Linked DNA regions of Homo sapiens. The protein of the gene in region 7 purifies or fractionates together with the protein of the main gene of each other region. This does not show direct contact. Each region holds a gene or a part of one and is shown on either strand. Other genes may lie near its edges.

Region 1 (3,500 bases), on a different chromosome or scaffold from region 7:
ATATATACATTTTTTATGGTTTCTCTCTGAAACTTTTATATTTTTGATAAAACCATATTGCCTTATTTTGTATACATTGTAATCTTTGATTGAAATTTGTACATTTAAAAAAGCTACCTGTCACAATCCTTATAATGTAGCTTTGTCCTGGCATAGTCTGGACAATTGTCTTGATTAGAGATACTGGGAGTCTCTCAAACATGTTGCTAGAATGTGTCTTGTCTACAATTTTGTGTTTATTTTTTAATTAAAAGAGTTTGTGTTTCTTCTTTTTTTAGTTTTTTTTTTTGTTTGTTTTTTGTTTTTTTGTCAGACGGGGTCTTGCTCTGTCTCCCAGACTGGAGTGCAGTGGCGCAATCTCGGCTCACTGCACCCTCCGCCACCTGGGTTCAAGTGATTCTCCTGCCTCAGCCTCCCAAGTAGCTGGGAATACAGGTGTACGCTATCACACCTGGCTAACTTTTCTTTTGTTTTTTTAGTAGAGATGGAGTTTCACCATGTTGGCCAGGCTGGTCTCAAACTTGTGACCTCAAGTGATCCGCCAGCCTTGGCCTCCCAAAGTACTGGAATTACAGGCATGAACCACCACAACTGGCCTTTTTTTGTTTCTTCTTAATAGTAATAACTTGCTACACCTGTTTTCTGTGTGTGGCACTGCAGTCTCTCTGCTGCTGTAACATTTAGCTTTGGTCTCAGCAGACTTAAACTGTCATTCCAAAGTATACCACCATTTCTTTCAGCACTAGATGTCATAGGAGACAGAAACCAGTGTATAGATAGGTCCCTAGAAGCAAGTAATAAAGATGTATGTGGCAGTATTTTAATTGTCTTTTAAAAAAGAAACCAAAAGTTGGCAGTGGGGAGCAGGAAGAGCTGTGTTGGGTAAATTTAACAGACTTTTCTTTTTCTTCTGTGTCACTCTCTATGTTGTGCTCAGCTGGGGCACTTCACACACTTAACTTATTTATAAATTTTCCTCAGATGTATTTTTGTTGGATGTTTTTGTTACATTTACATGTCTGTAAAAAATTAGGGCCTTTGGGCCAGGCGCGGTGGCTGGTGTGCCAAAGTGCGGTAATCCCAGCACTTTGGGAGGCTGAAGTGGACGCATCATCTGAGGTCAGGAGTTCGAGACCAGACTGGCCAACATGGCGAAACCCCATCTCTACTAAAAATACAAAAATTAGCTGTGCGTGGTGGTGCGTGCCTGTAATCCCAGCTACTTTGGAGGCTGGGGCAGGAGAATAGCTTGAGCCTGGGTGGCGGAGGTGGCAGTGAGCAGAGATCACGCCATTGCACTCCATCCTGGGCTACAGAATGAGACTCTGTCTAAAAAAAAAAAAAAATTAGGGCCTTTATTATTTTGCTATGCCATCTTGTTTATGTAGTTTGTATAATTATATGGGTTAGATTTGTAAAGCATATTCATCTGAGTCTAGTAAATGGAGTAATTTGTTATTTTTATTTCTTTCAGTTACATATTCTCATTTTGCCCAAGACCTTTGGCCAGAGCAGGGCATAAAAGATTCTTTCCAAGAAGTCATATTGAGAAGATATGGAAAATGTGGACATGAAGATTTACAGTTAAGAACAGGCTGTAAAAGTGTGGATGAGTGTAATCTGCACAAAGAATGTTATGATGAACTAAACCAGTGTTTGACAACTACCCAGAGTGAAATATTTCAATATGATAAATATGTGAATGTCTTTTATAAATTTTCAAATCCAAATATACAAAAGATAAGACATACTGGAAAGAAGCCTTTCAAATGTAAAAAATGTGACAAATCGTTTTGCATGCTTTTACACCTAACTCAACATAAAAGAATTCATATTAGGGAAAATTCTTACCAATGTGAAGAATGTGGTAAAGTCTTTAACTGGTTCTCAACCCTTACTAGACACAGAAGAATTCATACTGGAGAGAAACCCTACAAATGTGAACAATGTGGCAAAGCTTTTAAGCAGTCCTCAACCCTTACTACACATAAGATAATTCATACTGGAGAGAAACCCTACAGATGTGAAGAATGTGGCAAAACCTTTAACCGGTCCTCACACCTTACTACACATAAAAGAATTCATACTGGAGAGAAACCCTACAGATGTGAAGAATGTGGCAGAGCTTTTAACCGGTCCTCACACCTTACTACACATAAGATTATTCATACTGGAGAGAAACCCTACAAATGTGAAGAATGTGGCAAAGCTTTTAACCAATCCTCAACCCTTACTACACATAAGATAATTCATGCTGGAGAGAAACCTTACAAATGTGAAGAATGTGGCAAAGCTTTTTACCGATTCTCATACCTTACTAAACATAAGATAATTCATACTGGAGAGAAATTCTACAAATGTGAAGAATGTGGCAAAGGCTTTAATTGGTCCTCGACCCTTACTAAACATAAAAGAATTCATACTGGAGAGAAACCCTACAAATGTGAACAATGTGGCAAAGCTTTTAATGAGTCCTCAAACCTTACTGCACATAAGATAATTCATACTGGAGAGAAACCCTACAAATGTGAAGAATGTGGCAAAGCCTTTAACCGGTCCCCAAAACTTACTGCACATAAGGTAATTCATTCTGGAGAGAAACCCTACAAATGTGAAGAATGTGGCAAAGCTTTTAACCAATTCTCAAACCTTACTAAACATAAGATAACTCATATTGGAGATACATCTTACAAATACCTAGAATGTGATAAAGCCTTTAGCCAGTCTTCAACTCTTACTAAACATAAGGTAATTCATACTGGAGAGAAACCCTACAACTGTGAAGAATACGGCAAAGCTTTCAACCAGTCCTCAAACCTTATTGAACAAAGTAATTCATACTGGAGAGAAACCCTACAAATGTGAAGATTGTGGCAAAGCCTCTAACCCGTCCTGAATTCTTACTAAACATAAGAACATTCATACTGAAGAGGAACCCTATGAGTGTGAAGAATATGGCAAAGCCTTCAACAAGTCCTCAATTCTTACCAGACATAAGATAATTCTGGCTGGGTGCGGTGGCTCACACCTGTAATCCCAGCACTTTGGGAGGCTGAGACGGGTGAATTACATGAGGTTGGGAGTTCGAGACCAGCCTGACCAACATGGTGAAATCCTGTCTCTACTAAAAATACAAAATTAGCCATGCGTAGTGGTGCATGCCTGTAATCCCAGCTACTCGGGAGGCTGAGGCAGGAGAATTGCTTGAACCCGGGAGGCAGAGGTTGAAGTGAGCTGAGATCGCGCCATTGCACTCCAGCCTGGGCAACAAGAGTGGCACTCCATCTCAGAAAAAAAAAAAAAAGATAATTCATACTGAAAAGAAACTCTACAAACTTGAAAGATGTGACAGTGCTTTTGACAACACCTAAAACTTTTAAACATAAAAAATCATACTGGTGAGAAATCCTAGAAATGTAAAGAATGTGACAAGGCCTTTAAATGGTTGTCACACTTCATTATAGGTAAGATAGTTCATACTGAAGAAAACTTCTACAAGT
Region 2 (3,500 bases), on a different chromosome or scaffold from region 7:
GTGTCACGTTGGGGCAACAAAAGCAGCTTTGTGGTTCACCACACAGAGTAACTGTACTTTGAAAATCAAAGTACACTGTGATAAAGTAAATCCAAGTTACACTGTGAGTAATCCACGTTTGACATGGTAATTTTGCTGCAATTAAAACTCACACTCGGACATCATCGGTGGTCTGGGAAGTCAAAGTGTTGGCCTGTCTCAGGGGAACATTTGTTGCCCTTCACAATCCTTCCTCATCATGTGATTCTCCAGGAATGGGTGGTGCTCACACCTGAGGGCAGCCGGGCATAGTGGAGGAAGGACTCCTGTAAGGGCCCTGTGCCTGTGAGCACCAGGAGAGCAGCAGCCCTCGGGAGGAGTGGGTTCTGGATAAGAAGGTTCCGTTTGGCATCGTGGGTTAGAAGTACAAACCCCTGGCCGCACGCAGTGGCTCACGCCTGTAATCCCAGCACTTTGGAAGGCCTAGGTGGGTGGTTCACCTAAGGTCAGGAGTTCAAGACCAGCCTGGCCAACGTGGTGAAACCCCATGTGTACTAAAAATATAAAAAGTAGTCGGGCGTGGTGGCAGGTGCCTGTAATCCCAGCTACTCGGGAGGCTGAGGCAGGAGAATTGCTTGAACCCAGGACACGGAGGTTGCAGTGAGCCAACAAAGTGCCACTGCACTCCAGTCTTGGTGACAGTGTGAGACTCTGTCTCAAAAAACAAAACAAAACAAAAAAAAGAAACACAAACCCTTCTCTGAGGAGGAGGAGGTGTGTCCTCTCTCAGCTGCCCTGTGTGGCTTCTCCTGCACCCCCCTGCACTGTCCTCCTTCGCAGGGGAAAGCCTCTGGATTTCCTCGTATACGAGGAGCATTTGTGCATGTGCAAACTTTGCTTTTCTGATAATATTTTACTAAACATCAGTCTCCATCTGTTTGGAACTATTCTGTTTCTTAGTAAATGGGTTGCCACGTTTATCTCTTCTTTTTTTTTTTTTGAGACACAGTTTCACTCTTACTGCCCATTGCCCAGGCTGGAGTGCAATGGTGCGATCTTGGCTCAATGCAACCCCCACCTCCCAGGTACAAGTGATTCTTCTGCCTCAGCCTCCCGAGTAGCTGGGATTACAGGCACGTGCCACTATGCCCGGCTGATTTTTTGTATTTTTAGTGGAGATGGGGTTTAACCATGTTGGTCAGGCTGGTTTCGAACTCCTGACCTCAGGTGATCCACCCGCTTCGGCCTCCCAAAGTGCAGGGATTACAGGCGTGAGCCACCGCATCCAGCACTATTCTTTTTTTGAGACAGGGTCTCACTCTGTCACACAGGCTGCAGTGCCGTGGTGCAATCATGGCCCACTGCAGCTTTGACCTCCTGGGCTCAAGTGATCCTCCCTCCTTGGCCTCCCAAGGAGCTGGGATTATAGGCACACAACACCACGCCTGGCTAATTTAAATTTTTTATTGTTGTTTAGAGATGAGGTCTCCTTATTTTCCTATGTTGCCCAGGCTTGTCTTGAACTCCTGGGCTCAAGCAATTCTTCTACCTTGGCCCCGCAGTGCTTTGAGATTACAGGCATGAGCCACTGCACCCGGCTCATCTGCTTTTTATTATTGCCAAATTCTCAAGTAGATGAGGTCCTCAGAGTCTCACTTTGATAGCATGTCTATTCTTCCTTATAAACGGTACATTTTTGGATTACTATATGAAAAGAAATCCGTATGTGGTCTATTTCCTTTATCCCAACATATTTCTCCTAAGAAATTGTGTAATTGATTGTTGCAGATTGTTACATTTATGTTAGAACCAGTGGATCAAGTTCTCAGAGGGACGTTTTTGGGAATGGAATATCCAATGATGAAGAGATTGTAAAGTTCACAGGAAGTGATTCCTGGTCTATTTTTGGAGAAAATTGGAGATTTGATAACACTGGAGATCAGCACCAAATCCCACAGAGGCATCTGAGGTGAGTGGCGCTCAACCGGAGGGATGGGCCTCTCCGCAGAGCATCAAACTAACTTGCAATTCAAAGAAAAGTATCGGCTGGGCACAGGGGCTCGCGCCTGTAATCCCAGCACTTTGGGAGGCCGAGGCGGGTGGATCACCTGAGGTTAGTAGTTCGAAACCAGCTTGGCCAACACGGAGAAACCCCATCTCTACTAAAAATACAAAACATTAGCTGGGCGTGGTGGCTCATGCCTGTAATCCCATCTACTCAGGAGGCTGAGGAAGGAGAATCGCTTGAACCCAGGAGGCGGAGGTTGCAGTGAGCTGAGATCGCACCATTGCACTCCAGCCTGGGCAACAAGAGCAAAGCTCCATCTCAAAAAAAAAGTATAAACCAACTACACAATTTCAGACCCACAGAGACATTTTTTTTCTTTTTCTTTATTTTCTCTTTTTAAAAATATATTTTAATAATTACTTTTATTTATTTTATTTTATTTTTATTTTATTTATTTATTTATTTTTGAGATGGGGGTCTCACTCTGTCAACCAGGCTGAAGTGCAGTGGCACGGATCTTGGCTCACTGCAACCTTTGCCTCCTGGGCTCAAGCAATCCTCCCACCTCATCCTCCCAAGTAGCTGGGACTATAGGCACACACCACTGCACCTGGCTAATTTTTGTGTTTTTGTAGAGACGGAGTTTCACTGTGTTGCCCAGGCTGGTATCAAACTCCTGGACTCAAGCAGTCCACCCATCTCAACCTCCCAAAGTGCTGGGATTACAAGTGTGATTCACCGTCCCTGGCTGAGACTTTTCCTAAGAGAGTATTTTTATAAATGTGATGTCAATGTCACGTGTCTGAAACAGTTGGAAACAATATCAGGAAACTTCATCTATAAGAAACACCGTGGGCTGGGCGCAGTGGCTCACGCCTGTAATCCCAGCACTTTGGGAGGCTGAGGCAGGTGGATCACCTGAGGTCGGGAGTTCGAGACCAGCCTGACCAACATGGAGAAACCCCATCTCTACTGAAAAAAAAAAAAATACGAAAAAGAATTAGCCAGGTGTAGTGGTGCACGCCTGTAATCCCAGCCACTTGGGAGGCTGAGGCAGGAGTATCGCTTGAACCTGGGAGGTGGAGGTTGCGGTGAGCTGAGATCATGCCATTGCACTCCAGCCTGGGCAACAAGAGTGAAACTCCATCTCAAAAAAAAAAAAAAAAAGGCTGGGTGTGGTGGCTCACACCTGTAATCCCAGCACTTTGGGAGGCCGAGGCAGGCGGATCACGAGGTCAGGAGATCAAGACCATCCTGGCTAACACGGTGAAACCTCATCTCTACTAAAATACAAAAAAATTAGCCAGGCGTGGTGGCAGGCGCCTGTAATCCCAGCCACTTGGGAGGCTGAGGCAGGAGAATGGCATGAACCTGGGAGGTGGAGCTTGCAGTGAGCCGAGATGGCGCCACTGCACTCCAGCCTGGGTGACAGAGCGAGACTCCATCTCAAAAAAAGAAGAAAAGAAACACCGTGAAATTTATGGCTGCAGTTGAGCCTTCAGCTAGAGCATTA
Region 3 (3,500 bases), on a different chromosome or scaffold from region 7:
AGGAAACAGGGCCAGGTGCAGTGGCTCACGCCTGTAATCCCAGCACTTTGGGAGGCTGATAGGGTCAGATCACCTGAGGTCAGGAGTTCGAGACCAGCCTGGACAACATGGTGAAACCCATCTTTATTAAAAATGCAAAAATTAGCCGGGGATGGTGGCGTGCGCCTGTAATCCCAGCTACTCAGCAGGCTGAGACAGGAGAATTGCTTGAACCCGGGAGGTGGAGGTTGCAGTGAGCCGAGATCATGCCACTCCACTCCAGCCTGGGTGACAGCAAGACTCTGTCTCAAAAAAAAAAAAAAGAAAGCTGTACAAATAATGCTTTTGAATAATCCATTGTTATTTGTATTATTTCTTCTTTATTCAGGCACTTTGTGGGAATTTTGAACAAGACCTCTGGCCAAATGGAAGTATATGATGCTGAATTGTTCAACATGCAGCCACTATTTTCAGGTAGGTCCCAGTCATGAAAGCTGACAGAAATAATGCATAGTTTGGGTTTGCTGGATGAGTTGGCTTGAGTTTTAGATTTATAAAACACATTTTATAGTTATTTTAATTTATTTATTCTGTTTTTTCTGCTTTGTCTGTGTTGAGAAAATGGTTTTTTATATACACACTGTTTTTTGTTTTTTGTTTTTTTTGAGATGCAGTCCCACTCTGTCACCCAGGCTAGAGTGCAGTGGTGTGATATTGGCTCGCTGCAACTTCCACCTCCCGGGTTCAAGTGATTCTCCTACCTCAGCCTCCCGAGTAGCTGGGATTACAGGTGCACATCACCACACCCGGCTAATTTTTGTATTTTTAATAGAGACAGCGTTTTACCATGTTGGCCAGGCTGGTCTCAAACTCTTGACCTCAGGTGATCCACCTGCCTCGGCCTCCCAAAGTGCTAGGATTACAGGCGCTAGCCACTGCGCCCGGCCTAGAGTTTTTTATTCAGCACACACTTATTGATAACCTAATGTACCAGGCACCAAGCTGGGGCTGTGGATGTGGCAGTAAGCAAGACAGACACAGATCCTGTCCCCATAGTGTTTAGAGACTTGAGGTCAGAGGTTCATAAAAGCAATCTGAGCAATGATCAGAGCAGAATATTAGAGGACATGTCTGATATAAAATCTTTTCCATAAAAGAACTTCCTTCATTCTTTTTATTTTTATTTTTTATTTTTGTAAATTACTTTATTTCTTCCTTGATCATTTCAAGGGACTATCTTCAAACCAGTACAAATATTTCATACGTAATACCTGGCCATTTTCTAAACAATCGAGGAGTTTGTTGCACAATAAGCTACCTCACGTCTTTCAGCAAGAAATACATTAAATTTGAAGAGTAAAGACATTACATAATGAACTAGGACATAATTAAAATTTGCCTTAAATATTTCTTTGGGGGAGAGAACACCACACTTCTACTCAATGAAGAGAAACATTTTTACAGTCCAGAGGTCTTTCATTTTTTAAACACCTGTCACGCCATGAATTCATAGGGAATAGGTTCCAGCAGCTCAGGCTGCTTCCCATTGGTTCTCACCAAGTGTGCTTCTCTGGGTGGAGCAGGCTGGCGCTTCAGTTGAACCCAGGTACCTTTCTCTTTTGCTTCTGTCTTTTTCTAATCATCTTTCTTCACCCGTTTCATGAAGCTTTCTCGGCTCTTAGAGTGCTTAATGTGCTCAATACGCACACTAATTCTCTTGGCAAGAATCTTGCCCTTGTTTGTTTACAACAATGCCAGCAGCATGCTAAACTGTAGACGCTTCCAGTTTAGCCATGGTAACACTTGAGGGGCATTCCTTTTTGAACAGTACCCATTCCCTTGATGTCTACGATATCACCTTTCTTATAGATTCACATATATGTGGCCAAAGGAACAACTCCATGTTTTCTAAAAGGTCTAGAGAACATATATTGGGTGCCTCTCCTCTTTCCCTTTGTGTTTGTCATTTTGATGAATTACTGCAAGATGGCAGTTCTGGCCGAAAGGGTTCTTTCTTAATTCTTAACTGTTATAGTTGGGGTAAAGAGGTTTTAGAATTTCTGGTAGACAAAGGAAATTGCTTATTAAGTTGTATAGTAACTTTCACGTTGAGGACAAGTCTCTACACTAATTTGAGGAAGATCTATTTTTTTTCCCTAATCCAGTGGAAGAATTTACATTGTTTCTCTGCTTTGTCATCTTAGAATGCTCAGGGCTAGAGTGAGATCTTCCAAAATAATAAATAAAAGGGTCACACTCAAGGGGCTTCTGTTCCTTAAATCTCAGAACTTGAATCCTTAGTGATGCCCTTAAATACTGGGAACCATGGCAGGATAGGGCGATAGACAAGAAAGAAACATTGGGAGCATTGTGAATCTGCCTGATACCTCAGAGGCATTAGTTCCAGTTTTATTCTCTCAAAGCAGTGCTTCCATCCCTTTTGAGAATCTGCTAAGGACCTGGACCTACTTCTGAGAAACATATATGATACACAAATACATATATATGGGATTTTTTTTAATATGGGATTTTATACATAATTTTTTTTTTTTTTTGAGACCCAGTCTCGCTTTGTCACCCAGGCTGGAGTGTAGTGGTGCAATCTGGGCTCACAGAAGACTCTGCCTCCCGGGTTCTAGCGATTTTCCTGCCTCAGCCTCTTGAGTAGCTGGGGTTATAGGTGTGCGCTACCACACTCGGCTAATTTTTGTATTTTTAGTAGAGATGGGGTTTCACCATGTTGGCCAGGCTGGTCTCAAACTCGTGGCCTCAAGTGATTCACCCACCTTGGTCTCTCAAAGTGCTAGTATTACAGGTGTGAGCCACCGTGCCTAGCCAAATTTTACACGTAATTTTAAAGGTCTCTTGAGTCCGGACACCCATCTGTGAATTTCCTAGGTGTCCCCCTGCTTTGCAAACATATATAACTATATTTAAATCATCTTCCAACTGTTCTTGTAAAATCCAGGGAGGCAAGGAAAATTGTAATTTAACGTGTTGATTAAACATATTTTTGTTGTTATATGTAAGAAGTTTGTAAATATGAGTTTATTCTAGGTAGCACACACACAGAGATAACATTTAAGTCCTTACTATATGCTAGTCACTGTTCTAAGCACTTTCCATGCATATACCAACCTTCTGGAGTAAGTACTGTTGTTCTTTTTTTACCAGTGATGAAACTGGCACAGAGGTTAGATGACCTTATCAGGGGTGATGGCTGAGATAACAGGCAAGGCCACTCCAGAGCTTGTACTGTTGTGTACTAAGTTATACTGCCCTTATTTGAGTACTTTGTAGATGATTGGAGAGCATCGGTAAGTACCACATACCTCATGTTTATGCCTGCTTTTAGGTCTTTCACCAAGAAAGCAAAATTATTTTCTGGAAAGAGCCAAGGACTTGTTTTCTAATCCTGTCTCTGCCACTACCTGGTGAACTGACCTGGGGCAAGTAATTTCATCTGTGGGCCTTCTGTTTTTTAATTTCTAAAATGAAGAGGTTGGGCTGGATGACCGCTT
Region 4 (4,078 bases), on a different chromosome or scaffold from region 7:
AGCAGGAGAATCGCTTGAACGTCGGAGGCGATGGTTGCAGTGAGCCGAGATCGCACCACTGAACTCCAGCCTGGCAACAGAGCTAGACTCCATCAAAACAAAGAAAGAAAGAAAAACTGTTTGTAAAAAAAAAAAAAAACAAACAAACACTGAGGCAAAGGCCACAGCATCTGAATTTACCATCATCATCTCTATGTCACACTCAGGGACCTGAGACCTGGGCCTCAGTCCTACCCTCCGCTCTACCAGTCTACCCAAAGTCTCATGTGTTCATGTCTCTCTCTTTTTTTTTTTTTTAGATGGTCTCACTCTGTCACCCAGGCTGGAATGCAGTGGCACAATGTCGGCTCACTGCAACCCTGACCTCCTGTGATCTAGTGATCCTCCCACCTCAGCCTCCTGCACAGCTGGGACTACAGGCACATGATGCCATGCCGGTCTAATTTTTTGTACTTTTTGTAGAGACAGGGTTTTCCCATGTTGCCCAGGCTGGTCTTGAACTCCTGGGCTCAAGCAGTCCACCTACCTCAGCCTCCCAAAGTGCAGGGTTTACAGGTGTGAGCCACCAAGCCCAGCCCAAAGTCACAGGTCTTATCAACAGAGGCAGGATTTAAGCCCAGGGCCCTCTGGTCTGATTATGTAACCTGACATTTCTCTATTAGCAAAGTTAATGCAGTTAATGAGAATGAAGCATTTCAAATCCACATATACATTTCAGCCACTCCCATGGACAAGGGCAGAGAAGTGTAGTCATCATCATCCACCTCACCAAAGAATCACCTGACGTGGTGACACCTGATCAGGTGTTAGGGCCTGGACCTGCTTCCAGGGAGAATTCACAATGAGCCATCGCTTCCTTTTCTACCTAAGTCCTACTAGCAGGCATCCCTGAGGCCAGAAGATTCCATGAGCAAGCAACAAGAGTCATAGAGGGCACAGCAGGTTGTAGCCAAGACAATATGGGCCCATCTGGAGATTACATCTATCCTGGCTGAGTAGGAGGGTACATTCAGCAACATAACCATACAAACGTGCCCTCTCAGAATATGTCAGCAGGTAAGGGAGTAAGGGGAACCACATATAAAACCACCGTGGAAGCCACACAGGTCCCCTGAGAACTCCTTAAACAACCAATATACCATTTTTTAAGTCTACACAGTTCCACCAGTATGAAAGGCCATGACTCCTCATGCCCAAGATCACTGGCTAGAAGGAGGCCTCATCTTGCAAAGGTTACTTTAGGTCTCACCCCCAGGCCTCCCTAACCACTGCGGGTAAAGAAGAGGGTAAAAACACAGGCTATGATGTTAGACACACCAGTTGTTAGTTTCTGACTTAAGAAACTTAAGAGCTACAGTGATGTAAGGCAGGTAATTGGACGTATGTGACCCTCAAATTGCTCTTGTGTAAAACAATGATGACAACAGAACCTAATTCTAAAGAGTAATCCCAGCACTTTGGGAGACCCAGATGGGTGGATCACCTGAGGTCAGGAGTTCAAGACCAGCGTGGCCAACACGGTAAAACCCCGTCTCTACTAAAAATACAAAAATTAGCCAGGCGTGGTGGCGCACACCTGTAGTCCCAGCTACTCAGGAGGCTGAGGCAGGAGAATCGCTTGAACCCAAAAGGCGGAGGTTGCAGTGAGCCGAGGTCACGCCACTGCACTCCAGCCTGGGCGACAGAACAAGACTCCGTCTCAAAAAAAAAAAAAAAAAAAAAAAAAAATTTCAGGGTTAAACGAACTGAGGGTTAAATAATACTCACCGATCAGCCCACAGCAAGGACTCAATGACAGTTAATATCATTCTTTGCAATTATTTTTCTTTGTTCCCATTACATCCTTGACAAACTCAAATCCACAAGCTTCTTTAATACCATCAGATTATCTACACAAAAATACCAGACTCTGGGCAAGGGTGTAAGGTGCCACTTTAGCCGGAATTGCCAAAAAAGGCACCTCCAAATAGGTGACACCTGGACAGATGCCAAAAGGATGTGAAAGGGAGGCCCTGCAAAGTTACAGGGGCAGTGTTCGAAGTAAAAGGAAGTGCAAGGAGAAAGCCTGGAAAATGGAAGAGGACTGCACGGTCAGGTTGGTGGCTCTGAAGAGCAAAGGACCAGGGAAAAATGCAAACAGACAAGGTCAGGGGTGGTTGGCCAGGTGGATGGGGTACGGGCTGGCAGGCAACAGAGAAGGTTGGATTTAGGGGAAGTGTGATGAGATCCCTAGAAGGAAGCATCACTCCTTCAACCACGGACTGAACACCTATCAGAGGCCAACACTGTTGCAGGACTGCGGATAAAGGAAATGACAAGCCACGGCCATTTCTCTTAAATAAACGATGGCGACAAAGAAAAATCCTGTGGCTGTCTTGGCTTCCAGCCTGCCCACGAGGCCTCTAGAAATAGCACAGCAGCAGCAAGGCCGAAACCTCGTCCACTCACCTGCGCCGGAGCCATCCACGCCGCCGCCATCCCGGGAATGCCGCGGATCAGCCGACCACAGCCCTTCTCTGTCCTGGGCGGGGCGACCTCGGCTGACTTTCGCACTCCGAGCCTCAGTTTTCCCCCGAAAAAAATGCGCACAAGGCCCAAGGCGCAGCGTCGGGGCTGAGGAGACGGAGGGCGGCTGCGGAGGCCTAGGCCTCGGCGGGCGCCGGTGGGACACCTCGTTAGGGGAGAAGCGGGGCGTCAGGCTCCCGCCAAGACGCGAAGAAGGGGCGTAACCGCTTCACTACCCGTCCCTGCTCAGGCCGCAGAACGCGCCCACCCAGCGCTCTAGGCCCCACACTGTTTCAGGGCCAAACCGGCCCACGGAGATGACGTCACACGAAGAAGCGGAAGTCCCGCCTCCGCCGCCCTGGCCCGCAGAAAACTCTCCTGTCCTGGGTCGTCAATGGCCCAGAGTCCGCGGCCGACGCAAGGGGCAGTGCCTTCTGGGTAATGCAGTTTTTCCCTTACATCTACCGGGTGTGGGAACTCACCCAGCGCATCCGACTGCACGTAAGTGCGCACCAGAACCCCCGCGTCGTCTTAGGGCCACCGCCTTAGTATAGGCACAAGTCGGAGGGTCGAAAGGTCCCTTCTAGCTCAGGAAAATCGAGGTCAGGAGGCGGGGATATTCGCCCCGATTCAGACCCCGAACAAAGGTGCTTACCCTGCTGTGGGCTGGGCCCGCGACTTCTCGCTTGCTTTGCCTCTTTTCTGGATCTTTTCATAGAAGAAAAGGATAAATGAGCAGTTAAAATAGCCACCCAAAGGAGGACGCCTGACAGTGTGCCCAGCCTGCTGGGAAAGGACAGACCGCCCTCTATTGGGCCTCCTTTGGCCGGGCCCAGCCTTCGTAGGATGCAGGGACTTCCGGGTGATGTAATAGGCTTCGCGTTCGCCACGTGTGGACTTCCCGTACCCTGAGGTGGGGAGGCTGCTAGTGGAGCAGGCTTGCCGGGAAGCCCAGTACTCCCATTTCAAGCATGATCAGTTTGAAACGTCAGTAAGACCACAAAGCGTAGTGCCATATACTCAACCTATGATTCAACATTGGCAGAGGGTTCGAGCGTGGATATATAAATTTGGGAGTTATTACTGTAAACTGTTACTTCAAGTCATGATATTGGGTGAGGCTATGAAAAGAATGAGCGTAGATGGATAAGTGACGGGAAAGAGGGGAACCCTGGCCCAACCCAGCATTAACTGGTTGCAGACAGGAGAGTTTATAAAGTCTTGTTAGGAATTTTAACAATCCTAGACTATGCAAAGATTATATTATGCGAAGTCTTAGGAGTCCCCATCAGTAACTTTTTTTTTTTCTTTTCATGACTATGAAAGTGAGAGAATAAAGTCCAGCTTTCAATGGTTTGACGATATATATGGTTAAGGAAATAGAAAGGTGTGCAGAAAGTACTCTCCAAGAGATTTAATTTTGAGATTGAAAATAGTCAAGGAATGGAGATGGAGTCAATTTCCTACACGATGCGGTACTTTTGGAGAAATATTTTTGGCTAAATTAGTGTGCAAGGAACACTGTTATTCATCACTGGCAATAGTAATTTTTGAAAATTGATAAAGACATCAT
Region 5 (3,500 bases), on a different chromosome or scaffold from region 7:
GAACAAACTGCAGTCACACCTTGTTTAACATTAGGGATAAATTCTGAGAAATGTGTCATTAGAGAGTTTTGTTGTGCCAACATCATGGAGTGTGCTTACACAAAACTACATGGTATATAGCCTTATAGATATCTAAGTTATATGATATGTATGGCCTGTTGCTCCTGGGCTACAAACCTATACAGTATGCTACTATACTAAATACTATAGACAATTCTAACACCATGGTTAAGTATCTGTATATGTAAATAAAGACAAGGTATGGTAAAAATAAGGTGTAAAATATTTTTAAATGGTATACCTAAGGCACTTACCATGAATGTGGCTTGCAGCACTGGAAATTATGGTAGGTGAGCCAGTGAGTGAATGCAAAGGCCTCAGACATAATTGTACACCATTGTAAACTTTATAAATGCTGTATACTTGGGTTCCACTAAATTTATAAAATATTTTTCTATCTAAAAAATTAACTTGTTTGCAGTAACTTTTTACTTTATGAATTTTAAAAAATTTTTAAAGTTTTGACCCTTTTTTAGTAACAGCTTAAAATAGACATATTATAGCTGTACAAAAATATTTTTTCTTTATATCCTTGCCCTATAAGCATTTTTCTATTTTAAAAGGTTTTGGAGTTTGTTTTTGAGACGGAGTTTTGCTCTCGTCACCATCACCCAGACTGGAGTGCAGTGGCACGATCTTGGCTCACTGCAACCTCCGCCTCCTGGATTCAAGCGATTCTTCTGCCTCAGCCTCCCAAGTAGCTGGGTCTACAGGTGCCCACCACCATGCCCGGCTAATTTTTGTATTTTTGGTAGAGACGGGGTTTCACCATGTTGGCCAGGCTGGTCTTGAACTCCTGACCTCAGGTGATCCACCCACCTCAGCCTCCCAATGTGCTTGGATTACAGACGTGAGCCACCACGCCTGGCTTAAAAGTTTTTGTTGTTGTTGTTGTTGTTGTTGTTTTTCCTTTAAAATTTTTTGTTAAAAACCAAGATGTAAACACATGCATTAGCATAGGCCTGCACAGGGTCAGTATCATCAGTATCATTGTCTTCCATCTTTGTATCTTGTCCCACCGGAAGGTCTTCAGAGACAATTACACACATGACTCTGTCATCTTGATGTTAATGTCTTTTTCTGGAATACCTCTTCAAGGACCTCCCTGAGCTGTTTGACAGTTAACTTCTGATTTTTTTTTTAAATAAGTAGAAGGAATACACTCTAAAATAATGATAAGAAGTGTAGTAAATGCATAAATCAGTATCATAGTCATTTATTACCATTATCAAGTATTACGTGCTGTACATATGTATGTGCTATACTTTCATATAGTCATATGCATATAGCAGTGCAGTAGGTTTACACCAGCATCACCATAAACACGTGAGTAATGTGTTGTGTTATGAAGGCTGTGATAATCCTTAGGTGCTAGGAATTTTTCACCAACATAGTCTTATGGGACCACTATCATTTATGCAGTCCATTGTTGACTGAAATGTCATTATGCAGTGCGTGATTGTATTGATACAGCAACTAGAATGGATCCCAAAAGAATTGCAGGCACACCTAGGAGATACTGCGAGTTCAGTTCCAGACAACCATGAAAAAGCGAGTCATATACATTTTTGGGTACCCTGGTGCATTTAAAAGTTAGGTTTACTACTGATGTTATCATTTGAAAAAAAAAAGAGTTTTATACAATTCTGTAGTCTATTTAAAGTGTGAAGAGCATTATGTCTAAAAAATGCACATATCTTAATTTTTAAATATTGCTAAAAAATTTTAATCATCTGAGCCTTCAGCAGGTTGTAATCTTTTTGCTGGTGGAGAGTCTTGCTTCAGTGTTGGTGGCTGCTGACCCATCAAGATGGTGGTTGCTGAAGGTTGGAGTGGCTGTGGCAATATCTGAAAATAAGACAACAATGAAAACAATGTCCACGTTGATGGACACTTCCTTTCATGGAAGATTTCTCGATAGCATGTGCTGCTATTTGAAAGCATTTTACCCCCAGTAGAACTTCTTTCAAAATTGTAGTGAATCCTCTCCAATTTTCCTACTAATTTACAACTAAGTTTGTGTAATATTCTAAATCCTTTGTTGCTATTTCAACAATGCTAACAGAAATAGACTTACCAGGAGTAGAGTCCATCTCAAGAAACCACATTCTTTGCTCATCCGTAATCATGAACAAATAATGATATCATGAGCAGCAATTCAAGCACATCTTCAGGCCCCATTTCTGAATCTAGTTCTCTTACTGTTTCCACCACATCTGTAGTTACTTTATCCAGGGTAGTCTTGAACCCCTCCAAGTCATCCATAAAGGTTGAAATCGATTTCTTCCACACTCTTGTTGATATTTTGTAACTTCACAGATGCGTAGGTGGTCAAAAAATAAAAATCTTTAAAAGTTGATATTTTGACCTCCTCCCATGAATCACAAATATTCTTTTAAGACATGGAGGTGTTGCTCTGTTGCCCAGGTTGGAGTGTAGTGCTGCTGTCATAGCTTATTGTAACCTTGAACTTTGGGGCTCAAGCAGTTCTCCCACCTCAGTGCTGGTGCATGCCACCACATCCGTCTATTTTTATTTATTTATTTATTTATTTTTGTAGGGACAGGGTCTTGCTCGTAGCCCAGGCTGGTCTCAAACTCCTGGCCTCAAGCAGTCCTTCTGCCTCAGCCTCCCAGAGTGTTGGGATTATAGGCATGAGCCACCATGCCCACAAATGTTGTTAATGGCATCTAGCGTGATGAATCCTTTCCAGAAGGTTTTCAGCTTACTTTACCCAGTTGCATCAGAGGAATTACTATCTTTGGCGGCCATGTAGCCTTACAAAGTGTATTTCATAAATATGAGACTTAAAAATAGAAATTAATCCTTGATACATGGGCTGAAAAATACATGTGTTAGCAGTCAAAGGAACATTCATTCTTTTTACATCTCCATCAGAGCTCTTGGGTGACAAGGTAAATTATCAACGAACAGTAAGTTTTTTAAAAGGAGTCTTTTTTTTCTGAGCAGTAGGTGTCAACAGAGGGTTTTAAGTATTCGTAAATAGCATATCTGTTGTAAACAGATGTGCTGTCATCCAGGCTTTGTTTCATTTATAGAGCACAGGCAGAGTACTTTTAGCATAGTTCTTAATGGCCCTAGGATTTTCAGAAGGTTAAATGAGCGCTGTCTTCAACTTAAAGTTAAGTATCTGCATTAGCTTCTTTTTTTTTTGGAGACAGAGTCTTGCTCTGTCACCCAGGCTGGAGTGCAGTAGCGCAATCTCGGCTCACTGCAAGCTCCGCCTCCCGCCTCCTGGGTTCACATCATTCTCCTGCCTCAGCCTCCTGAGTAGCTGGGACTACAGGCGCCCGCCACCATGCCCGGCTAATTTTTTTTTATTTTTAGTAGAGACGAGGTTTCACCTTGTTAGCCAGGATGGTCTTGATCTCCTGACCTCGTGATCAGCCTGCCTCTGCCTCCCAAAGTGCTGGGATTAC
Region 6 (3,500 bases), on a different chromosome or scaffold from region 7:
GTCTCAAAAAAAAAAGACTCCTGGGAGAGGGTCAGGCGCGGTGGCTCACACCTGTAATCCCAGCACTTTGGGAGGCCGAGGCGGGCGGATCACAAGGTCAGGAGATCAAGACCATCCTGGCTAACTCAGTGAAACCCCGTCTCTACTAAAAATAAAAAAAATAAAAAAATTAGCCAGGCGTGGTGGCGGGCACCTGTAGTCCCAGCTACTTGGGAGGCTGAGGCAGGAGAATGGCATGAACCCGGGAGGCAGAGCTTGCAGTGAGCCAAGATCGCGCCACTGCGCTCCAGCCTGAGCAACAGAGTGAGACTCCGTCTCAAAAAAAAAAAAAAAAAAAGACTGCTGGGAGAAGTATTTGTGCGTTTGCAAAGAAAGAACATGAAATAATTGTCCTCAACGTAAAAGAATTTCTACTTTTACTGGAATAATAATTTTCATACTTCCTGTAAGTATTAGTCAGTTTTTGGGAATAAATCCATTCCCTACACATTCTAATATAGTACTTATTTGTGTTGTGATAAAGACGACAAGCCAGTAGCAGCTGTCAAAAGTCGTTCATAAATCTATGGTTTATTTTTTGCTTATACCTCAAACTAGGTAATTATCTGGTATCCTCACCCAATAGGTTGATTATAAGTCATTAGCAAAGATTAAGCTGTAAATCCCTGTCTACATTTTATAAGCATGTGTTACTCACTCTTCCCTTTTACTTCACATTTAACACTTTAATGTAAAAGCATTGGTGGTTAAGGCAGAGAGCTGACAGCTGGAAAAATACTGATAAAACATACTGATAAAAAATACTGAAAATACACTTATCAGCTGTTTTTATTGCTGTGTGTTTAGATCTTGAGAAATAATGGTTAGACAACATTTTAACATATGTAATATATACTCACTGTTTTGAAAAATAAGTACAAGGCTGGGTGCAGCAGCTCACTCTGGGAGGCCGAGGTGGGAGGATCACTTGAGGCCAGGAGCTCAAGACCAGCCTGTGCAATGTAGTGAGACCTTGTCTCTACAAGAAATAAAAATATTTGCTGGGTTCACTGCCTCGCGCCTGTAGTCCTGGCTGCTTAGGAGGCTGAGGCAGGAGGATTGCTTGAGTCCAGAGTTTGAAGTTATAGAGAGCTGTGATCAAGCCACTGCATTCCAGCCTGGGCCACAGAGACCCTATCTCCAAAAAAAAAAGTTCAACATACAGATAAGTCATTGGTGATCCTATTGTCCAAGGTAACACTGTGATACTTGGCTTATATATATATATATATTTTTTTTTTTTTTTTTTTAAACTGAGTCTCCCTCTCACCCAGGCTGAAGTGCAATGGCGCGATCTCTGCTCGCTGCAACCTCTGCCTCCCAGGTTCAAGCGATTCTCGTGCCTTAGCCTCCCAAGTAGCTGAGATTACAGGCTCCTGCCACCACGCCCAGCTAATTTTTGCATTTTTTAGTAGAGATAGGGTTTCACCATGTTGGCCAGGCTGGTCTTGAACTCCTGACCTCAAGTGATCTACCCGCCTCAGCCTCCCAAAGTGCTGGTATTACAGGCATGAGCCACCACGCCCGGCTGTAGAGATGTATTTCTACATCATCCTTTTAGATTGCTCCATTGCATTCAGGAATTTAAAGAACTTGAATGTCTTCTCAAAATCGGGTTCTGTCACTGCAGTCTTGTGGCATTACCAATATTTTGATAGATGGTGTGAGCTACTGAGCTGAAAATAAGTTTATTTTTATTTTTTATTTTTTATTTTTTGAGACGGAGTCTCGCTCTGTCGCCCAGGCTGGAGTGCAGTGGCACAATCTCCGCTCACTGCAAACTCTGCCTCCCAGGTTCATGCCATTCTCCTGCCTCAGCCTCCCGAGTAGCTGGGACTACAGGCGCCCCTCACCACACCCGGCTAATTTTTTGTATTTTTAGTAGAGACAGGGTTTCACTGTGTTAGCCAGGATGGTCTCGATCTCCTGACCTCGTGATCCGCCTGCCTTGTCCTCCCAAAGTGCTGGGATTACAGGCGTGAGCCAAAGCACCCGGCCATGTTTAACCTGCCACTCTAGGCTTGCATTTAATATCACCTCACCTCTTAGGGTTCCAGCTGTTCTTGGTAACGTATCTGCAATTCTGTTCAGAAATTTGAGGACCCAGAATTAGTCCAGGAGAAAAAGGAGGGGGTGTCTGTTTTGGTTCTCTAGCCAATGTGCCTAGTTGTTTTACAGGTTGAAATTCTTAGAATTTGGTCCAAACAAGAGTATCAAGAGGTGAACCATTTTATGTGATTATCAGTATTCACTGTTTATGATAAAGATCTGTTTAGTAAACCTGTATTTGTGTATGACCGTATGTGGAGCAACATTTGGAACAAATGTTGAGCTAGAACTGTGGGGATGGAAATGAATATGATTTACTAGAAACACTGCAGGGAGTTGAGTCCACAGGCTGCAAGTGCTGATTGAATGGTGAGGGGAAGTCAGATATGGTTATGGCTGGGGATTCAAATCTAAGCTCTAGAATATTGATGGTGCCTTTTCTGAGAAGCAACAGGATTAAGAATCAGCATGTGGCTAGTCACAGTGGCTCACGCTTGTAATTCCAGCACTTTTGGGAGGCTGAGGTGGGAGGATTGCTTGAACCCAGGAGTTTGAGACCAGCCTGGGCAACATAACAAGACATACAAAATTATCTACAAAAATAAAAAAGTAGGCCGGGCATAGTGGCTCACGCCTGTAATCCCAGCACTTTGGGAGACCAAGGCGGACTGATCACCTGAGGTTGGGAGTTTGAGATCAGCCTGACCAACATAGAGAAACCCCATCTCTATTAAAAAATACAAAATTAGCTGGGTGTGGTGGCAAATGCCTGTAATCCCAGCTACTCAGGAGGCTGGGGCGGGAGAATCTCTTGAACCTGGGAGGTGGAGATTGTGGTGAGCTAAGATCGCACTGTTGCACTCCAGCCTGGGCAACAAGAGCGAAACTCCATCCCAAAAAAAAAAAAAAAATTAACCAGGCATGCTGAGGCAGAAGGAGTTCAAGGTTATAGTGAGCTATGATCGCACCACCACACTCCAGCCTGGGCGACACAGCAAGACCCTGTCTTTTTTTTTTTTTTTTTAATGAATGAGCATGTAAGTTTGCTGAGGGCGTCTTATTTATACCTGTTTCTCAAAGCTGTTTGCGTGTAGAAAGACTCAAAGACTCAGTTATTCAATAGATTGAATGAATTCTGTTTTAAACTTGGTAAGTTTTGGGGGTGCCATTCTTGCAAGTGAAATGTAGGTTAGGAATTGAAAGAAAGGTTGGGGTCAAGGTCAGGTTCTTTTTTTTTTTTTTCGAGGCAGGGTCTCACTGTGTCACCCAGTCTGGAGTGCAGTGGCCCCATCTCAGGTCACTGCAGCCTCCGCCTTCCAGGTTCAAGCGATTCTCCTGCCTCAGCCTCCCAAGTAGCTGGGATTACAGGCGTTCGCCAACATGCCCAGCTAATTTTTTGGATTTTTAGTAGA
Region 7 (3,500 bases):
TCAGAAAACAAAAATAGCAAGAGAAGGACCTTGTTTTTAATCCTGACTTCAGCACTGACTCTGAGCACCCTCGAACAAATCTATACCTCACTGAGCCTGTTTTCTCATTCAAAGCCTGAATGGTTCAAATCATGGCTCGGCCCCTCACTTGCTGTGTGACTTTGAACAGGTTTCTTAGTTTCTCTGCTTCGGTTTCCTCATGGGTACAATAGGAATGATAATAGTTTTACCTTGTAGCTGGTTATGAGGATCAAGCGCATTAATTATTGTAAAGGTCCTAGCACACGAGTTCTATCCAAGTGTTTGATATTATTACCACTGCTGCTGCGGATGTTACTGTTGATCGCTATTCTTATTTTGATGAAGAGGACAAGACACCTTTGGAGATGTTTCCTCCTCTCCTAGAACACTAAAGTTTCAGAAATGTTTCCCAAGTCTCCCTGACTTACCCACTGCTCATGCAATGCCTCCTCCACAGGATCAGAGCTGTGCTCTGGAAAACACCCACATTCTCTGGGCAGTGACACCTCCACACTCACCTCCTTGTCTTTTCTCAATGATCCCCCCATCTGGTTTCCTTCCCTCCCACCTTCCGCCACGGTGCCTTGCTTCCCTTCCACCTGCTCCCAGGCCCACCTCTCTTCCATCCCAGTTCTTGGAAGGAGCGGTAGGTAGAAAGAGCCTCCCTTTCCCATCCCTTCTCTTACTTCCCCCCACCCCCACAATGCCAGCTCTTTACAATACGCAGAGGGACCTCAGCGAGGGCCATTTGAAAGCCCTGTGTAAAACCAGGAAACCATGGGGTGGGGTGAAGGGAAGTTAGAAAGAACTCAGGACTTATGAATGCATAATGCTGAACTTTTTGGAAATGGATGGGCCTGGTGCCAGTCCTCACTAGGGCTCCTAGATTGTATTCTCCTTACAAAAGGGCCATTATGAAAGTTCCGCATCTCCCGTGTGACAGGTTCAGAGCCATAAATGGCATGACGTCAGAGGGACCAGGGGAGGAATAGGTTTCCCAGCCATGTCCTCATTGTCAAGGGCACTGGGACCCTGGAAAGAGGTTTAGGGGAAGGAGGGAGACACTTTGGAGAAAGCCGCAGCAGTTCCCAGCCGTTCTGCAAAGGAGGCCGCTGAGCTTGCCCGAGGCATCAGCTAGACCTGTCTGCACCACGACCACCCAAGGCCCCCTGCCAAAACCGCAGAGTGCCTCGAAAGAATCATTACACCCTCTTCCTCACCTCAAGACACGTAAGGGCTGATCACTTGGCTTATCCAGCCCCCACGTGACATCCTGGAAGAGCAGCACCTCCCACCTCTATCTCTGCATTTTCTTTTGGGATCATTTCTTTTCTACCAGATAGGAGAGGTCATTTCCTATAGTTAGGAGATTGTAGACAGGGGAGAAGTTAGGGGAGCTGGACTGGCATCCTACCTCTGTAATTACCTAACTGGTTGGAGTCCACACTCTCCTTTCTACAAAATGAAGAAGTTGAAGTTAAAGATTGGTAAAAAAAAGTCCCTTCCAGTTACAAAGGTCTTTCCTCCTGATGCTGGTTATAAGGAAGCATGTTACCATCTTCTCCACCAAAGTTGGCTTGACCGGACCCTGCGCTCATTCCCTTTGCACAGTCATCTACGTTTAAGGTAAACATTAACCAGCTCTGTCTTTCTCACTCTTTCTCTCTCCCCACGCCAACACACACAGAGACCACACGCCTTGAGACCAGCGAAAATGCAGAAGTTTGGGTTCAAGCATACCCAGTGTTCCCTCATAGCTCTGAAGACACTTGTCTGCAATTATTGTATTAAAAAGAGAATGCACACTCCTTCATATAAGCATATAGAAGACACCTTAAATTAACCAACACAGCTTCCCTAATAGTGGGTTACAGCTCAACACTCCAGAGCCCTGAAATGGGACAACAAAATCTTGGGACAAACAAAAATGGGAAAAACAAAAAACAAAATGGGACAAACAAAAATCTTGCTAGACCAATGGTCTCTCAAACTTTTGGGGTAGAGGAAAAAAGTAATAAAACTTCAATTCATATATATTTTTTCTTAAGAGACAAGGTGTCACCATGTTGCCCAGGCTGGAACGCAGTGACTATTCACAGGCGCGATCACAGCGCACCTTGGTCACACCCCTTGCCAATTCCTTTGTGCCTGCTTCTTCCCGGAGGTCCATTCTTGCTGTGAGTTCCTATCAGTGAGGCTCCTTTTGGTCACAAGCACATTAGTTCCAACCCAAGTAACCTAATTTTCTTTCCAGAACAGTTGGCCGTGCCCTTCAAGGCTTCTTGTATTGCAGAAGCACATGTTCCAATCAAGGGTGCGGGGGCTGAGGACAGAGCTTTGGCCCTGTCTAGAACTTCCTCTGAGATTTACTTACTGTAATAAGTCTGACCAGATGTATTGGTTATTTGAGAAAATATTACCTTGGTCTTTAAATATATAGATGAGTTATAGATAGATAGATACAGATAGGTAGGTAGATAGATGAAAGTAAAATAAAGAAAAAAATTGGTTTTCTGGAGAACTGTGAACAAAACAGCAAAATAACCTCCCTAGTTGGGCAGGAACCCAGAGATACAGGCTGCTAAGAGTGAAATAAGTATGCAGAGAGTAAGTCATTGTTTCACTGGTGCATTGAATGGCAACTAACAACCCATTTGTGGTGAGCATGCCAGATACAGACGATGTCTTCACCAAAGCACAGCGGAGAGGAACAAAAGGCCGGGCTACTCACCCACACATTGGTTGCTTTCATCCATCTGGTATCCAAAGCGGCATATAAGAGGCCTGGAGATCGTGGGATAGTTTGGAGCTGAGAGTGGTGGGGCAGCTGCTGGGTACGGACCTGAGTAGGGGGTCGAGTAGGGGTTCGAGTAGGGCCCTCGATACACAGGGTTTGTCCGGGGAATGCATAAATACCCGCCATTTTGGTTAACACACATCATGTCTCCTCGGCAGGCCTCGGGGATGGTTCGGCATTCATCAATATCTGAAAGGCACAGAAAGGGCGAGCATTAGTGGCACCCCAACTGCCTTGTGTCCGGTGCATATTTAAGCAGAACTCGGTACCAGGCGTGGAGGAAGCACTCCCAAACACCTAGGGTGGTCCCAACTCATCGCGGTAAGGTACCCCAAATGTTGGCTGAAGTGTATCAAAGTAACCAGTGTCACTCAAACATCAGCCTTTCAAATACCACCATCATGATTTTGACCATATCTACAAAAACCTTGCTATAGTTTGAATGTCCCTCCAAAACTCATATTGAAACTTAATCCCCAGTGTTGCAATATTGAGTGGTGGGGCCTTTAAGAGGTGATTGGATCCTGAGGGCTGTACTCTCATGAATGGATTAATCTACTCATAGATTAATGGGTTAATGGGTTATCTTGGAAATGAAACTGGTGGCTTTCTAAGAAGAGGAAGAGAGACCTCAGCTAGCAGCCCAGGCCCCTCACCGTGTGATGCCTTGCGTACTTCGGAA

Evidence for each region.
Region 1: the proteins of FBLN5 (region 7) and ZNF430 purify together in Homo sapiens (affinity purification with mass spectrometry; one large-scale study listed by BioGRID and IntAct). This does not show direct contact.
Region 2: the proteins of FBLN5 (region 7) and ZNF77 purify together in Homo sapiens (affinity purification with mass spectrometry; one large-scale study listed by BioGRID and IntAct). This does not show direct contact.
Region 3: the proteins of FBLN5 (region 7) and POLR1E purify together in Homo sapiens (affinity purification with mass spectrometry; one large-scale study listed by BioGRID and IntAct). This does not show direct contact.
Region 4: the proteins of FBLN5 (region 7) and ZNF460 purify together in Homo sapiens (affinity purification with mass spectrometry; one large-scale study listed by BioGRID and IntAct). This does not show direct contact.
Region 5: the proteins of FBLN5 (region 7) and R3HDM1 purify together in Homo sapiens (affinity purification with mass spectrometry; one large-scale study listed by BioGRID and IntAct). This does not show direct contact.
Region 6: the proteins of FBLN5 (region 7) and PRR14L purify together in Homo sapiens (affinity purification with mass spectrometry; one large-scale study listed by BioGRID and IntAct). This does not show direct contact.

The regions. Positions count from the first base shown.
Region 1 is NC_000019.10:21,055,157-21,058,656, forward strand, and holds part of ZNF430 (zinc finger protein 430), read left to right. Parts: intron 1-1,474; coding exon 1,475-2,865; 3' UTR 2,866-3,500. UniProt on the Homo sapiens protein: May be involved in transcriptional regulation.
Region 2 is NC_000019.10:2,934,972-2,938,471, reverse strand, and holds part of ZNF77 (zinc finger protein 77), read left to right. Parts: intron 1-1,767; coding exon 1,768-1,948; intron 1,949-3,500. UniProt on the Homo sapiens protein: May be involved in transcriptional regulation.
Region 3 is NC_000009.12:37,488,948-37,492,447, forward strand, and holds part of POLR1E (DNA-directed RNA polymerase I subunit RPA49), read left to right. Parts: intron 1-367; coding exon 368-453; intron 454-3,334; coding exon of another isoform or gene 3,335-3,428; intron 3,429-3,500. UniProt on the Homo sapiens protein: Component of RNA polymerase I (Pol I), a DNA-dependent RNA polymerase which synthesizes ribosomal RNA precursors using the four ribonucleoside triphosphates as substrates.
Region 4 is NC_000019.10:57,279,207-57,283,284, reverse strand, and holds the start of ZNF460 (zinc finger protein 460), read right to left. Parts: upstream 2,801-4,078; 5' UTR 2,479-2,800; coding exon 2,449-2,478; intron 1-2,448. UniProt on the Homo sapiens protein: May be involved in transcriptional regulation.
Region 5 is NC_000002.12:135,537,984-135,541,483, forward strand, and holds part of R3HDM1 (R3H domain-containing protein 1), read left to right. Parts: intron 1-3,500.
Region 6 is NC_000022.11:31,743,633-31,747,132, reverse strand, and holds part of PRR14L (protein PRR14L), read left to right. Parts: intron 1-3,500.
Region 7 is NC_000014.9:91,934,195-91,937,694, forward strand, and holds part of FBLN5 (fibulin-5 isoform 1 precursor), read right to left. Parts: intron 3,008-3,500; coding exon 2,753-3,007; intron 1-2,752. UniProt on the Homo sapiens protein: Essential for elastic fiber formation, is involved in the assembly of continuous elastin (ELN) polymer and promotes the interaction of microfibrils and ELN. Stabilizes and organizes elastic fibers in the skin, lung and vasculature.